Linked DNA regions of Homo sapiens: region 2 is linked to region 1. Evidence: fine-mapped expression QTL. A gene starts in region 1. The other region holds a variant in brackets. All regions are shown on one strand. Distances are between the middles of the regions. Region 1 holds the start of UBAP2L (ubiquitin associated protein 2 like). Region 2 overlaps UBAP2L (ubiquitin associated protein 2 like).

Region 1 (8,407 bases):
CCGCACCCCAAACCTTAACTTGTCAATAGTCCTCATACACTTCTTCACTGTTTTATCGTGTCACCCTAAAAAAGATGCTTAGCTTTGCCTGGTTTTCAACTTGATACAAATGGAAAAATACTTTAAGAATCCCTCTGCAACTTGTTTAAAAAAAAAATTTTTTTTTTTTGAGACAGGGTCACACTCTGTCACCCAGGCTGGAGTGCAATGGCACAATCTCAGCTCACTATAACCTCCACCTCCTGAGCTCAGATGATCCTCCTGCCTTAGCCTCCTGAGTAGCTGGGGTTACAGGCACACACCACCATGCATGGCTAATTATTAAACATTTTTTTTTTTTGAGATGGAGTCTTGCTCTGTCACCCAGACTGGAGTACAGTGGCATGATCTTGGCTCATTGCAACCTCTGCCTGCTGGGTTCAAGCAATTCTCCTTGCCCTCCTGCCTCAGCCTCCCAAGTAGCTGGGACTACAGGCGCATGCCACCATGCCCAGCTAATTTTTTGTATTTTTCGTAGAGATGGGGTCTCACCATGCTCGCCAGGCTGGTCTCAAACTCCTGACCTTGTGATCTTCTCATGTGGGCCTCCCAAAGTGCTGGGATTACAGGCGTGAACCACCGCGCCTGGCCCATTTTTAAACTTTTTATAGAGACAGGGTTTCCCCATATTGCCTACGCTGGTCTCGAACTCCTGAGCTGACGTGATCAGCCTGCCTCGGCCTCCCAAAGTGCTAGGATTACAGGTGTAAACCACCTCGCCTGGCCTTAAATTTTTTTTTTTTTTGATACAGAGACTCACTCTGTCACCCAGGCTGGAGTGCAATGGTGTGATCTCTGCTCACTGCAACCTCCGCCGGGGCTCAAGTGATTCTCCTGCCTCAGCCTCCTGAGTAGCTGGGATTACAGGCACACACCGCCACGCCCAGCTAATTTTTTTGCATTTTTAGTACAGTCGGGGTTTCACCGTGTTGGCCAGGCTGGTCTTGAACTCCTGACCTCAGGTGATCCACCTGCCTCAGCCTCCCAAAGTGCTGGGATTACAGGCGTTAGCCACCGCACCCAGCAAAATTTTTCAAATATACTTTATTGAGGTTGAATTTACATACAATAAATGCATTCATTTTATGTATATAAATTGATGAGTTTGACAAATGAACATACCCCCTTCACCACCACGTCAATCAAAGTAAAGAATATTTTCATCACCTGGAAATCTCCCCTCTCCCAGCCCAGGCAACATGATGTACTCTTTTACAGTTCTGCCTGTTCTAGAATTTCATATAAATGGGGTGGAAGCACATGGTACATATTCTCTTGTGAACGGCATTTTGGCTTTCTTCACTCAGCATGGTTTTTTTGTTTTTGGTGAGACAGAGTCTCGCTCTGTCACCCAGGCTGGAGTGCAGTGGTTTGATCTCAGCTTACTACAACCTCTGCCACCTGGGTTCAAGGGATTCTCCTACCTCAGCGTCCCGAGTAGTTAGGATTTTTTTCTTGTATTTTTAGTAGAGATTGGGTTTCACCATGTTGGCTGGTCTGGTCTCGAACTCCTGACCTCAAGTGTTATCTGCCCAACTCGGCCTCCCTAAGTGCTGGGATTACCGGCATGAGCTACCATGCCCGGCCCACTCAGCATGTTTTTGAGATTCATGTTTGCAATTTTTTTCATTCAGAAGTATTTTGAGGACTTGTCTTCATATATTTATCTTCAGTTTTTCATTTTTTACACTATTCCAGAATATGAATATACCACTACCTATTTTTTAGAAACAAGGTCTTGCTCTTGCCCATGCTGGAGTGCATCAGTGCAATCATAGCTCACTGCAGTCTGTAACTCCTGGGCTCACATGATCTTCTGGCCTCAGCCTCCCAAAGTGCTAGGACTACAGGTATGAGCCACTGCACTCAGCCTATATAATAATTGAAAAGTGGACATTTGAATTAAGTTTCTTCTTCAAATATTATGAACAATGCCCCTATAAATAATCTTGCACATGTTTCTTGGTACACATGAGCAAAACTTAATTTCTCTATGGTAGGAGAGAAACTGTTGGACCATGGATTAGGTACATGTGCAATCTTACCAGACAATGACCAGTTATTTTCCAAAGTGGTTTTACTAATTTATACTTTCACTAGCAATGGTTGAGAATTTAGAAAAAATTTTTAAGCAAAAGGAATATTGCTCTGAACTAGACCAAGGGACCCCTGAATAGCCAAAGTATTGATTGGTTCATGATGTGCTAGAAACTAACCCTATGTCTTTCTCATGAGGCAGGCAGGACTGTTAAGGTTTCAAGCCAGGACATCCTCCTAGAGCCTTTTCATGTACTATGTCAGCAAAGAACAAAGAGGGGAAGGTTAATAGCACTTGTTAATGAAAGTACAGTGCTCTAGGAGTTGAGGGAGTCATGAGCTCTAGCTCTACAACTAACCTGTTTTTCATTCAGCAACAAATTACAGAGTACCTGCTATGTGTAGGCCCTGGCACTAACCTGTTTTTCATTCAACAAGAAATTACTGAGTACCTACTATGTGTAGGTCCTGGCTTTATAGTCGTGAACAAAACTGGCATGGTGCCTGCATTCTTGAAGCTTACGGTCTAGCGGAAGAGAGAGGCATGTTTTAAACAAATGGACAAACATAAAAATTATGGTAAATGCTATGAAGGAAAAATCAGGGTACCATGTGAAAATAAAGAGAGGGGGAACCTACTTTAAAATAGGTAATAAGCATTCCTTTTTTGGAAGTAACATTTAAGCTAAGATCAAAAGAATGAATGAGCTAGCCAATTGAAGACCATTCCAGATCACAGGAGCAAAAAGGGTGGAAAATTCAGCCAGTGGAGCTGGGTCCCAGTGATCTGGGGAGAGCCACACAAAAGGGGGTTGGTAAGGGAAGCAGGTGTCTTTTACTTAGAAGCGAAAGACTAAAGAAGCAGAATGAGAGTGGCAGTGGGATAGCAATAATTCTGATTCACAAATGTTGGGTTTGAGATGTCTACTACAAATCTAAGTGGAAATGTCAGGTAATCAGTTGGCAATATATGTAAGGAACTCAGGAAAGAGTTCTAGGATAGAGATAAAATTTCATCTGTAGCTAAAGCCAAGGAAAGGAAGACAGTCACCTAAGGAGAAAGTACAGACAAAGATAAAAGACCACTGGGTTATTCACTTCCTATACGTCTTCTGGTAAACTGCCTCCTTTTCTTGGGCTTCTTGGTAACATGAATGGTGGAATTAGATGATTTATGGAGCTCCTCTTAAGTCTAAAATTATGTAAAGGTAACCCTTCTCATTGCTCTTGGGTTAACCTTAATGATCTCAACCCCATCCTAATCAAACAAAAAACACTGGGTAGTTTAAGATGAGCTGGGAAATATTTTACTACAAACAGTTGGGAACTTCGACCCAAGCCCTTCATTCTGCAGATACAAAAACAGAAGTTCCAGGATGAGCCACATGCTTGCCACAGCACTGAGCAGGTAAGCCAAGTTCCAAAGCGCACAGTGCCTGCTCAACTTAGTAAGTACAAGGACAAGTGCACGCAAAGAAACATGAGAATTAAAGTCATCACTAAAGGCAGAGGAAATCTCATTCTTGACCCTAAAAGATCTGGAGAAGTATGTTTAACTTGTGCCCTAAGGACCTACCTTGGGGGCATTGTGTCCCACAGGGACATGAGGTCCCCTTCGAGATTTCATTGCAAAGCGCATGATTTGCCTCTTCACAAAAATAAATAGCAGTACAAACACCTGTCCAAAAAGATGTAAAAATCCTTTAATAAAAAGTCAGTTTTGTTTTGTTTTTTTTTTAAAAAAGCATGCCTTCATTCCAAATCCCCAGATTCCGGCTCTCAGGAATGTTTCAGGGTAAAACTTGGGGCAAAGCAAGGCCGTTATGATGGGGGTGGATCTAAGAAGCCAGCAGCAGGGAGGCGTGGGGTCTGTGCTCTAGCGTTAAAGGGAGGGTTCTAGACTAACGAGGGCGGGTCGGCCCGACTAAGTGACTTAAACTCCCACCTACTCCTGGAATAAGGAGTCAAAGCCCGGATAGGCGCAGGTGAGTGGGTGGAGAATGCAGACGGGGTACAGCTCAAAAGGAGGGTCTCTACTGGGTAAGATGCGACAGCAGGAATGGGGTGGGGTAATCTCCTCACCAGGCTCCCGTAGGCCATCACCAGCACGACATTCACCCCGGAGAGCCAGTTACTGCCGGACGCCATGGCCTCCCTACCTCGCGCAGAATTGTTCGGGTTTACCCCGCTGTCCTGGCTGGTCAGCCCAGGCTCCGCCGAAGCGACGGCGCCTGGGTCCCCTGGAGCTCCCCGGCCATTTCCTTACGGGGGAAGACCAAGCCAGACCCGGCCTGAAAACATGGCGGACAGGCAGGAGAGCTGGGAAAGGAGAACGACGCCTTCCAGCTTCCCCCTGACACGTGACTCAGGCAGGCAATGGCACCCAGGAGCGTCGAGCGCTCAGACGCGGAACTACGACAGTAAGAGGAAGCGGCGGCCATCCGTGCGTCACGTGGTGGAGGCAGGGCCGCCGTGAAGGAGGCGGGGTGGACTCGCGGAGCCGGAAAGAGGTGTCTCGTGGCGAGGCGGCACGCGCACGCTTGCGTGCGCGCCCCTTTTAGCGTCACGCGCTGAGGGACGCAGGAAGGCAAGTGGGCGGGGGAAGGCGCGAGAGCGAGCGCGAGAGGGAAAAGGAGGGAGGGGGTGGGGAAGAGGGAATCTTATATCACGTGACAGGGGCGGCGCGGCCCGGGGTGTCAGTGTGGAGGAGACTGAGGTAAAGTTGGGAGCGCAGCGGCGTTGGCGGCGGCGGCGGCGGCAGCGGCAGCGCGGCGGGGCCGGGTATTGTCCGCGGCCCCTTTAAATCCGCGATCCCCCTTTTACCCTCCCTCTTTTCTCCCCTGCCCCCGCCGTATCCCCTCCCTCGGTAGGCCCCCCCACACCGTGTGTTCCCCCACTGTACACCCCCCCCCGAGTCATGCGAGCCCTGGCGCCCCCCACCTCGAGTCGGCCCCCGGAGGTTTTGTTTATGGTTGGGTTCGCGGCCTAGTGGGCCGCGCCAGAGCCGGGGCCTCGATTTGGGAGCGTGGCCGGGGCGGGGCTTGGAGCAGCCGTAGGAAGGGGGGGCCATGCGGCTAGAGCCTGAGAGGGGAGAGCGAGAAAGAGCGCGAGCGAGCGAGGCCTGGGCCTTGCCTGAGGTAGGGCTCTCTCTTCACCCCGGCCGGTGCCTGCGGAGGAGAGGGCCTCCTCCCTTTCCACCCACTGCGGGCCTCCTCTGATCCGGATCCGGCCTGGTTTGGGGGTGGCGTGGGGGAGGGAGGGCGATGGGGTGGAGCTCCCCCAAACTCCCCCATGTGGCCCTCAGTTTGGTGTGCGAAGGATTAATTTGTTCCGGCTGGGAGGTAGGGAGGAGATTGGCCCCGTGGGCTCTCGATGTGGCGCTGAGGGGGGTGAGCCTCCCATCCTCCACCCGTGGGCTTGCGTCCCCTCTCCGTTTCCAGGCTCTTTGTCAGCTCCTCTTATTACCCTCCCTTCTTTCTCACCAACCCAGTTCTTGGAATATGTTTTTGCTGCTGTCTTTAGCTTCCTGTTTATACTGTAGTTTGGGTACCCCAAACAATTGTGTTATTTGGGAAGCTGGACATGGAGGCCCCCATAGGGTGTATTTACGCTTAAGGGACGTCACTAGAGCACTGGGGTATTTGTTCACTCTTCTCATAATGGTACAGGAATGCCCAGTTTCTTCAAACCCTTAACCTTGTGGACAGCCCTTAAATTGCTTTGCAAACTGATGTCACAAACTGGAGACTGCTCCTTTTCCACCATTCTTGAAATGTAGCCACCTCTGGTGTAGGATGTTGTGGAAAGAAAAACACCACAGTAACAGGCGTTTTTGTTATTATTGTTAACGTTTTTGCCTTTGACTCTCCCTGATTATTAAATGGAGAAATCCTTTTTTTTTGTCTTCTCTCCCATCCTACCTTCCTCCGCCGCATATCCTGTTTTGGGGATACCTGATGTGACTTGCTGGGAGGTGATGGACATTACTAGTAACCAGCGTTTCTAGAGAATTAAAACATTTTGGCTGTGTATCAGTTGATAAAACTGCTTTGAGATCTGTCTCCATTGTACTTAAAGATTAGACTATCCCAATGATTACAGAGAATTAAAACATTTTGGCTGTGTATCAGTTGATAAAACTGCTTTGAGATCTGACACCATTGTCCTTAAAGATTAGACTATCTCAATGATTGTTTCCTTTGTGAATGGGAAATATTGCTGGCACATAAACTAGTGATGAAAGGCCTAAAAATGTCCTGTTTTGTTTTTCATCTTTAAAGCTCCTCCTTGCTATGTCCTAACTGGGAAGTACTCTTACTAACTAGATATCAAGGTGGTGGGGAAGGGGATGCAGGGGCCATTTCAACAAAGCATCTACAGAAATTAGTTGTTCTGTTAGAGGTAGCAAATTTTACCCAACTCAGTCTAGCTTCAGTTTCTGAATTGTTTCTTAAATTAGATTGTAAGCTCCCTGAGGGCAGCTACTAAGTCATACTGCTTTTGTATTTTCCTGAAGTATTGGACACATAGTAGATTCTCAATAAATATTTGTTATTTAGTTTTTTCAGTGAAATTTCTCTGGCTATTTTTTTAAGTAGCTAGTTTTCAAAAAAGAGTCAAGGGCACTCCTGTGTTGAAACCTCTGTTTACTCTCGCACGATTTCCTTGGTCTCCAATACTTCTCACCCTACTTCCTTTAAATCTTTTTATTTTCTAAGAAAGAGCAAGTAAGTAACAAGATTCTTCATCTCCAGTGTGATAGCTGGGAATGGGTCTGCTTGCTACTAATTCTGTGCCCTCAAGTGATCCATTCCAGATCACTTACTTTTGACCTGTTGCTCAGTGTTGTCACTACTAGGTGGTAAAAATTTTCTTAGTCACATTTCGAAGCACTTGTAAGAGGGAAATGTTACTAGCAAGAGTGATTAGGAGAATTTTTTTCTTTCTTGGTTAATTATATCTTTCAAGATGACTTTTTAATATGTTTACATCTGACTGGTACAGTATATGCAATAGTGTATAGCTAGTCATGCAGTTTATACCTGCAATATAACTTATCCTCACAAATAGATATCACATGTGGAGTAGAAAACAGTCAATATTTGTAAGTTACAGTAGTGGGTTGGAAATGACTATGCCATATTAGAAACTTCATCTTAGAGCCAATTTTAAAACAAAATAGTTTTCCTCTCGTCTTTATATATATACGTATATATGTGTATATGTAGTCTTGTTGATTTGGATTCGGGGTACTTGGTTAAACATTTTTTTTTTTTGTAAAGTTGAAACGACTATAATGCTAACCTGGGAAAATGGGCTACTGTGTAGCAAATAATCCTTTCTAGCTTGAAATACTTATGGGCTTTTGTGTGCCAATATGTGTAGGGGGAAGAGGTAATGGGTTAAAAATTACCTGAGAAGCTACCTTAAAAAAATCTTTCTTGATACAAAGACCTATGCAACCTATTGACGCAACTTGGTGAAGAATTTATGCACAGAAAAAGTCAGCTTTCTCTGTGACATCCAAGAAAGTCAGATGAAATTCACTTCCCTAATAGTTAATCCTTGCATATTTCTTTAGAAGTCCTTCCTCCCACTCAAATCCAGTAATATCTCTGGGCAGTCTAGAATTACGTTGTATAAGGTTTCATTAACAAGAAAAATTAAATATAGAGCAGAAAAGTATAAACTTACCCTCTTTGGAAGGGAATAAATGCAGAGTAACCTATTATTTTGAACACTCTATCATATGATTAATGTTTTCTTTTTTACTAAATGCAGCAGCTGAGATTGTATTATAAAACAAAGTATGAACTAAAGGAACTTGAATTCAGTAGAATCCTTCCTTGTTAGAAGTCTTGTAACAAAAACTATATTCTGGTTTGGGGAAGGCCCTGTGTGTTCTGTGTCTCTTTAAAGACTCAACTAAGTCATCTTGCCAGCATTAAGGTCTCAAGTTTAAAATGATTTCTTAGAAGCACTTTCTTCCAAATAAAACTTTGTGCTAGATGCTTTTGGTTTGAGACAAATTTGAGATTCCCTGTATATTAAGGTGAGTGGTGGAGGGTAATTGCCATTTTGGTTTCTTGAAAATGTGGACTAGGAGACCAAGAGAAGCACCTGTAAAAGCAGTGTGTTGGAATTATTTTCCAGAGAACAGAGATTCTGGACAAAGTCATTGGGGCTAATACGTACCCTGTTGAAGGCTGTGGTTTAAAAAAACAAAAAACCCCCACAAACACAAAACAAACCCATAGCATACTGAGAGAGATGAAACTTGAGGGACAAAGAAGAGTCTAGACTTGAACTTGTCCTTTCCCAAGCAATGGAG
Region 2 (8,407 bases), 20 kb after region 1:
GGTTTTCTGCTCAAGGAATGGGGTAAGTTTCATTGATCTAGTGTCTTAATTTTTTTTCCCTTAAAAATTACTGTAGGCAGCCTTAACCAAAATGATCAGAATGATTTCTAGACTGGTCAGAAAGATATGGGGACTTAGGGCTCATTTCTTAGGGATAAACCTTTACCACCTGGATCATTACCTATATTTTATATATCTTTATTTGAATCAATATACCTGTTCTTTTCTCAGAATATCTTAGATATATGTTGAGATTATACCATGAAATTTTGGGTAGAGTGATAAGTGAGAAAAAGTAGATGACACACAGGATTATAGAATGGGGCCATGACAGATTTGTACTAGGAAGGATGCAGTCAAGATTTTGATTCTTTGAGTTAATATTTGCCAAAGCTGCTTAGAGGTCAGAGACTCTTAAGTTTTATTTTTTCCAGAACCTTTAACCCAGCTGATTATGCAGAGCCAGCCAATACTGATGATAACTATGGCAATAGCAGCGGCAATACGTGGAACAACACTGGCCACTTTGAACCAGATGATGGGACGAGTGAGTGACCATTTATCATTCATTTCTTGTCTCTGGGAATCTAAGGAAATAGTTTTTTCTGATTATACTTACATTAAAACGTGGAAGAATAGTGTTTGGTTATGGAGATAGGGTGAGAAAGGGCTGGCAGTTGTATTACTGTGTGTACTGTTTATGTAACGTGCATATGGGCACATTACACATGTTATTTCGCTTAATGCTGCTTGATATTGTATGAAATAATCATTATTTATCATCACTTTCCAGATGACAAAACTAAGGCCGAAAGAGAGGTTATAAATTTGCTAGTATTTGAACTCAGCATTGTTTGACCCTGAAAGTCCATGCCCTTTCAACTATGCTATGTCACTGCTATTAGGTCCAAGTGTATTTTCTAGTGTTTATGTTAGGGTAGTGTTGCCTTTTGAAAAGATAGCCAGAATTAATCAAGCCACTGCTTGTAAAGATGAACAAGGCCTAGAATCAAAGTCCACACTATCCATTTATTTGTTTTCTGTTACTGAGATAAGAATATCCTTTTTTTCCCTTTATTTTTGGGACATGTCAGTATCTGAACAAGAAGATTTCGAAATCTCTCTAGCCTTTCTGGTGCCCTGTTGAACAGCCTTCTTGGTGTGATGGAGTATTCAGGGTTTGAATAAGATTACTTTTTTGTTAACTGACTTTGGTGCCTGCGTCTGGGCTGGATATAAATGTTTAAGGATATGTTAAGCTGTGGTATACACCTAAGATGTGTTTGGGGGTGGATACGTGTGCCACTTTCAATAAGAGCAGTTCATTTTAGTAAGAAAACTCTGGAGTGCTTTCTTGAACAGCTGCCTCATTCTGGCTGAGCTAACACATGAGAGCCTAAGGCTTTTTTTCCTCTTACAAAGGGGGATGAGTAGGGCCTGAAATGTTTGACTCCTTACCTGTTTAAATTTGCCTTGTCACCTTTCACAGATACGTGATCTCTGGGCCTTTAGGAGAGCCTTTGGCACAAATAGTTTTCCACCTTTTTCCTACAATATATTATTCCTGAGGCTCTGAATGTCGTCTGCTTTTTGTTCGCCAAGTTGCTATCTTATAAATTCATTTTTAACACATTTCATGGGTGGAGGCTGAAGTTGAGTTACAAGATAGGTATCTTTGAATTTCTGCATCATTTAGTTACGAAATGTCCTGTTATAGTTTAACTTACTATACTTCGGAGGCATTAGAACTGTTCTTCATTCATCTCTTGATGGCTTTGTAGAGGCAGTGGTAGCAGTCTCAATAACAAATAAGTTACTGTTTTTGAGCTGTAGCTTATTCCTGGGTATTTGGCTTTTTATCTTTGGCAGGTAAGATGGCAGAAGTTGAAAAGTTTGTTTTTAGTTGTGAATAGAAATTCAGGCATGGGGTCCCAGTCCTTAGCCTTCGCTGTCTTCAGTAAGGATCTGGTTGGAAAAACAGCGAAAGGTAGTGTGTGTGTTAATTTCTACTGAGTAGAAAAGGGAGCAGATGTGCAAGGCTGGAATTGGAAATCTGATTTGTAGCTGAATGTGACGCCACTATCGTCTTGTTAGTGCAAAAGTGTTGGTTATAGCTTCATGAATTCCCATTGTCATTAATTTTTTTTTTCTTTTCTTTTTTTCTTTTTTGAGACAGAGTCTTGCTCTGTCACTCAGGCTGGAGTGCAGTGGTGCGATCTTGGCTCACTACAGCCTCTGCCTCCTGAGTTCAAGCTATTCTCATGTCTCAGCCTCCTGAGTAGCTGGGACTACAGGTGCACGCCACCACGCCTGGCTAATTTTTGTATTTTTAGTAGAGATGGGGTTTCACTATGTTGGCCAGGCTGGTCTCAAACTCCTGACCTCAAGTGATCCACCTGCCTTGGCCTCCCAAAGTGCTGGGATTACAGGTGTGAGCCACCACGCCTGGTCGTTGTTAATTTCATGATATGAACATACCTTCATGCATGGTTTCTTTTTGTGTTTTCCTGATAGCAAACTTGAGTTTCCCCTTTAAATTAAAAAAAAAATCCAAACCTACCTTTAAAATATCCACAGGTACAATGGGGATTATGTATTGGGGCAGACTTTCTCATTTACAAGCAAAATTTCACTGGTTGTTTTTTCTTTTCTTTTCTTTTTTTTTTGTTTCAGGACTTGATTTCATTGGGGTTGAGGGGTCAAATTATCCCCCAAAATTATCCCCCAGACTGCTCCTGGTATGATACATCCAGGTGCCTAACTGCCCCAGATATTTTTGTAGATTTTTATGAGCTGAAATATCTGTGGATATGTCATTTTTATGTCTTTCTGCTTTTTCTCTTTCTGCCTTTTTCTCTCATTTTTCTGTGTCCACTTACCTTTCTGTTCATTTAATGAATATTTGACAGTTACACTGATTGCTTTCTGCTAATGGAATGGAAACCCTAGTCTGTTGTTTAGAGCATTTCCATCTATTCTGTTCCTTAATGCTTCCTCAGCTCTCTCTCTTCCTCAGCCATGACCGTATATCCTGAATAGGAACATACCAGTTAGGTGTCTACGTTCCTCCTTTCCATCCCAGTTGAAGTCATCAGTGTGCAGAAAAAAATTCTTGCATCAAGAGCCTAGATTAAATAACCTGTTAGATCATGTCTAACTCTAGGATTGTGTATAAGTGCTAATGCAACTTGGATTCCATCGAGCCAGGATAAGATGGATGTCAATGAGAAGAAAGTGTGGTATCAATGAAGGAGAAAAGAATGTGGTTTGTAACTTGTCTGTACTGAGATTGGACTTTGGTTTTGAGAATATTGTCATTATTAAGTGGTTTAGGATTTCCCTGGTGCAATTTTAATATTTTCCTGGGAAAGTCTTTACAATGAATATATTTTCCTCTAAGAAAGAAGATTTTTGCATTATTAAATGTTTAGAAGAATTTTAGATGGGCTTTGTATTAGAATACTTCTAATGTGGTGTTAGAATACTTCTCTTCAGTGGCACAGCATCTGAATGTCAGACTTTTCATTTCATTCTTATAAGCTTTTTTCCAGTAGGAGGGAAGGATTGAAGAGTTATTTAATATATATTATTCTAGCAAGAAAATAAGGGTGCTCTTGTCCCTTCTTCAGACAGGTTCTTGTTTTTACTGTGCCTTTGGCTGAAGGGAAGAATCCTGGTTCTTGTTAGAAATTCTCACCCTTATTTTTTAAGAAAGGACATTTTTTTTTTTCTGAAAATATATGTATACATGAAGCACAAAAAAGGAATGTGGAAGGTGGTTTGATTGCTTTTGGATTTCTCCAGTAGAAACTGTATCCCAGCTTCCGTATTACCAACAAACACAAGGACAGTGTATACTCCCGTTGTCTGTGCCATGACCATAGCAGGTCAGGTTTCAAGTTCTATATGAGTAAGGTTAGGACAGTAACTATCATTCATACCTGATTTTTCAGTCTTGTTCATTGTCTTTTGAAGAGGACAGCTCTATAGGGGCTTTTCTTATACAGTTAAACCAATAAGATCTATAAACTTGACTTCTGCTGAGTATGCATTTTTAATCTAATTCTCATAGCAGATAGTTTTCAATGCCCTCAGTTCGGGTTTCAAACCCACCCTTCTTCACTGCTCTTTCACTAACCATTATGTGGTAACCATTTGTGTTTCTCTATCAGTGCTACTATCCTTCTTCAGACTGCCTACAGTATTTTTTGTCTTATACTAGATAAATAGGTGTAGTTTGCATGTTATGGTTTAAATTGGCTGCTGCCATTTCACTGAATTGACCACTAAATCAACCTGAGGACCTTAAAGATACTGCTTTGAGCATTGGGTGGTTGTCTGTCTGTCCCCCCCCCCACCCCCATTCCTGCTTTGTAACAAAAACTGAAAGTAGCTATGAAATCATAATCTTATTAAAACCCTGGTACTCTGAGATATCCTTTTCTAAAGAGTGTTTCCTTACCTTTGAAGCCCAAGAATTTCTTTTTTTTTGTTTTGTTTTTTGTTTTTGTTTGTTTTGAGACAGTTTCACTCTTGTTGCCCAGGCTGGAGTGCAATGCCGCGATCTCAGCTCACTGCAACCTCCACCTCCCAGGTTCAAGCCATTCTTCTGCCTCAGCCTCCCGCGTAGCTGGGATTACAGGCATGTGCCACCACGCCCAGCTAATTTTGTATTTTTAGTAGAGACAGGGTTTCTCCATGTTGGTCAGGCTGGTCTCGAACTCCCGACCTCAAGTGATCCACCCACCTCGGCCTCTCAAAGTATTAGGATTATAGGTGTGAGCCACCACACCTGGCCTTCTGATTACTAAATTTTAGTCATACTTTTGGCTGCCAAAAAAATTAATACATTGATGTTTTCTATACATGCTTTGTACTGGCATTTAATAGTGAAGTTACTTCACTATTTTTCTTTATTCTCAGGTGCATGGAGGACTGCAACAGAGGAGTGGGGGACTGAAGATTGGAATGAAGATGTAGGTATTCCCAGGTCATTCCTCACTAATGCCTTCTATCCCTAAGTGT[T/A]GTTTAGGGATAGAAAATGGGTATGTTTCTACCCCTCAAAATTCACCCTTAAGATTCTGACCCAAAACTTTTACATCCAAAATAGTGTTCTGAGCCAGAACATTTCACATATGTTATATGAAGGAGACTGGGCATGAACAGGACTCTGTGGAACCACACTATGGAAAGGGCAAGTGCACTTGTGTAAGTCCAATATCTGATTGTCGGATTTATCCCAGGAAGAGATTGGTGGTTGGGTAGGGCACCAGAAGTGGAGTTAGGCAGGTAGTGCATTGAGTAACAGCTGCTGGTGGTACATGACTACTTGGTGCATTTAAGTATTTGCTATAAGGTCCTGTAATGGATTGGCAGTGGATCCAAAGCGAGTGTTGTGGTACCAAATCCTCAAACTTGTAATCTGGTTGACTCTGGAACCCTTGTATTTATTTGAAGCCCAACTGTATAATTGTGATTGAGATGAATATCTGTAGAATTGGCTATCTGCCAGCTTGACTTAACTTGGAAACCTCATAGATGGGTGGCACGTAAACAAGCTCTGTGAATTCATTTGAGTACTACCTGAGTAAGAATTTTGCTGATTCCTGGTCACAGTCAAGCTTCTGCTGTGAATTATGGTTTTCAGTGATCATGGATAAACTCTTGTTTTAACATTTTTAATCTATGTACTTTTCTATACTTTCATGTAGTTAGGCAAGACAGCTTTTGTGATAAGAGGAAATGACATGTGAAGACTGTTTTGGTTGCCAATTCTGGGTTTTTTAAATTTCAGAGGCATCAGCATCACAGGGTGATTATTTTCTATTGTATAATCAATGAACTAGACTGCTTTGTGAAAATGGGCAAATTATGTTCCTTTCTGAGATTTGGCTTGTCCGCTTAAGCAACTTTCAGAGAATGATAAATGGTGTTGGGCATTGAGGGGAGAGTGGATTTTCTGTGCTTTAGCGATTTTAATCAAGAAATAAAACTGAAACCCAAATCAACTTTTGAATAGTAGGAAAAGTTAATCCCTGCATTTGCTTACCTAAGTTTGATGCCTTAATAGTGGAAGGACTAGATGTCACAAAGTCAAATATTAAGGCAAAAATAACATCTAGTTAAAACGATCTCCCATAAAAACCTTAATTCAGCAGCACTTGGGCCCTTACTGCTCAAAAGCTAAAAATGAACTTCTTTTATTTATTTCTTCATCTTGGTTATGATCTTTCTTTGGGAGGGGTGGGGCTGTGAAGGGAGTAGTAGAAGACAAATGTGGTTTGGGAAGAGGTGGGAGTTGGGAACTGTAATGGGAAAATATAGAGGGATTTTCTTTCTTTTATTTTTTTTTTTTTATGTCTAGCATGCCTGTAAGTTCAGTATGCATATGATCATGTGACTCCACTATATTTTATTGGGTTCCTTGCTTCTACTCTTTCTTTGGCTAAAACTATTGAGCATATATTGAAGGGCTTGAAAGTCAATCCATTCAGGATTCCTCAGGGTAGATAGTTTTCTCTTTATAGGGCTTTCACTTTTTCTTGATGTTGAATTCCCCTTACCTATGCCAAGTTTCTGACTGTAGCATCCCTGACACCAAGAGTGACTAATCCCTCTGTTTTCCAGCTTTCTGAGACCAAGATCTTCACTGCCTCTAATGTGTCTTCAGTGCCTCTGCCTGCGGAGAATGTGACAATCACTGCTGGTCAGAGGCAAGTGTGCAGTAAAATTTAGTACCATTTCTTAAACACATCTGCTGAGATTACTGTAAAGAGAAGTGGCACTGGCCTTTGTAAACTCCCATGGTGTCAATAATAATAACCAAATTACATTACATCATTACATTCCTCTTAAGTTGATGGAGAGACTTCTTTTTTTTTTTGTTTTTGAGACAGAGTCTCACTGTATCGGCCAGGCTGGAGTGCAGTGGCACGATTTCGGCTCACTGCAACCTCTGCCTCCTGGGCTCAAGCAATTCTCCTGCCTCAGTCTCCCGAGTAGCTGGGATTACAGGCGTGTGCCACCACGCCTGGCTAATTTTTGTATTTTTAGTAGAGACGGTGTTTCACCATGTTGGCCAGGCTGGTCTCGAACTCCTGACCTCGGGTAATCCGCCCACCTCTGCCTCCCGAAGTGCTGGGATTACAGGCATGAACCACCGCGCCAGTTGATGGAGAGACTTCTAAGAGTTAGTACTAGTTAATCTGCTGAATGGAAGTTGATATGTTACAATTTTAAAGTTGATTCTCCCTGCAAATAGCACTTTAATTACAAAGATCAGCCTTTCATATCACCAGCATTGAGTATATAACTTGTTTTGAAGTAAGTCAGGGAAAGAAGAGCCAAAAGTGGAAATGTTTTCATTTATTTCTGAATCTTTTAGAACTGTTCAGCAGTTTATTCTCCTGTTCTCTGAGCCCACTGAGTATAACAGTTGTTTTTTTCCTTTGGATCAGCAGGATCCAGCTAATAAACGTTTTAGAATTTAAATCTCTAGGGATCAGTGGTAGGAGATACACTCTTCAGGGAATATTTTTAATTCGCTGGAAACCTCTTGGATTTTTTCTAGACCTGAGCCTGATAGCTCAAAAATTCAGTTCTGACGTTAACTACCCAGAGTTAATGCAGACCCCACAAGTTGAAAGCTCAGTTCTACAAGAGTGCCCCAACTTCAGAGGTTCTGCCAGCCAGCTACAAATTTGGAGGTTCCCATGACCGCCTTTCAAGTTTGATAACTCACTAGAATGACTGAACTCAGGAGTTTTACTTGCCGTTACTGTTTTTTTGTTTTTGTTTTTGAGACGAGACGGAGTCTTGTTCTGTCACCCAGGCTGGAGTGCAGTGGCGTGATCTTGGCTCACTGCAACCTTCTCCTGGGTTCAAGCCATTCTTCTGCCTCAGCCTCCCTAGTATCTGGGATTACAGGCATGCACCACTATACCCAGCTAATTTTTTATTTTTAGTAGAGGCAGCGTTTCACCATGTTGGCCAGCCTGACCTCAGGTGATCCACCCACCTCAGCCTCCCAAAGTGCTGGGATTACAGGTGTGAGCCACCACACCTGGCCCATTACTGGTTTATTATAAAGGTACAACTCAGCAACAGCTAAACGGAAGAAATGAGTAGGGCAAGGTATGAATGGGTATGTGGGTGGGGCACACACAACCTCCTTGTCCTCTGCAGGTATCCTGAAGCTCTCCAAATCTTATTGTTATGAGTTTTATTACCTAGGCATGATTGATTAAATCATTGGCCATTGGTGATTGGACTTAATAGCCACCTCGCCTACACCCCTGGAATTTGGTGGGATTGGGAGGGGCTTCTGAAAGTTCCAACACTCTTACCTGGTCTCTTTTTTTGAGACAGAGTCTCACTCTGTTGCCCAGGCTGGAGGGCAGTGGCACAA

The links. PIP is the estimated chance that this variant, and not a neighbour inherited with it, causes the effect. A credible set is the group of variants that fine-mapping cannot tell apart.
Region 2: its variant is the best candidate, but not a certain one, in a credible set for the expression of UBAP2L in whole blood (TOPMed, PIP 0.59).

What each region holds. Positions count from the first base shown.
Region 1 is chr1:154,216,184-154,224,590 of GRCh38, forward strand. UBAP2L (ubiquitin associated protein 2 like) reads left to right here and starts at 4,772. Exons shown (of 27, transcript NM_014847.4): 1 at 4,772-4,792. LTAP1 (lipid transport auxiliary protein 1) reads right to left here and starts at 4,407. Exons shown (of 7, transcript NM_001098616.3): 1 at 4,159-4,407; 2 at 3,653-3,754. The coding sequence starts at 4,224. RefSeq lists enhancers at 3,780-4,527, 4,106-4,545, 4,528-5,275 and silencers at 3,866-3,935, 4,796-4,945.
Region 2 is chr1:154,236,590-154,244,996 of GRCh38, forward strand. It overlaps UBAP2L (ubiquitin associated protein 2 like), which reads left to right. Exons shown (of 27, transcript NM_014847.4): 7 at 1-22; 8 at 435-547; 9 at 4,924-4,976; 10 at 6,628-6,713. Among named protein-coding and RNA genes, the nearest start is that of SNORA58B, 19 kb to the right of the region's middle. The variant T/A (reference allele first, on the strand shown) is at 5,026.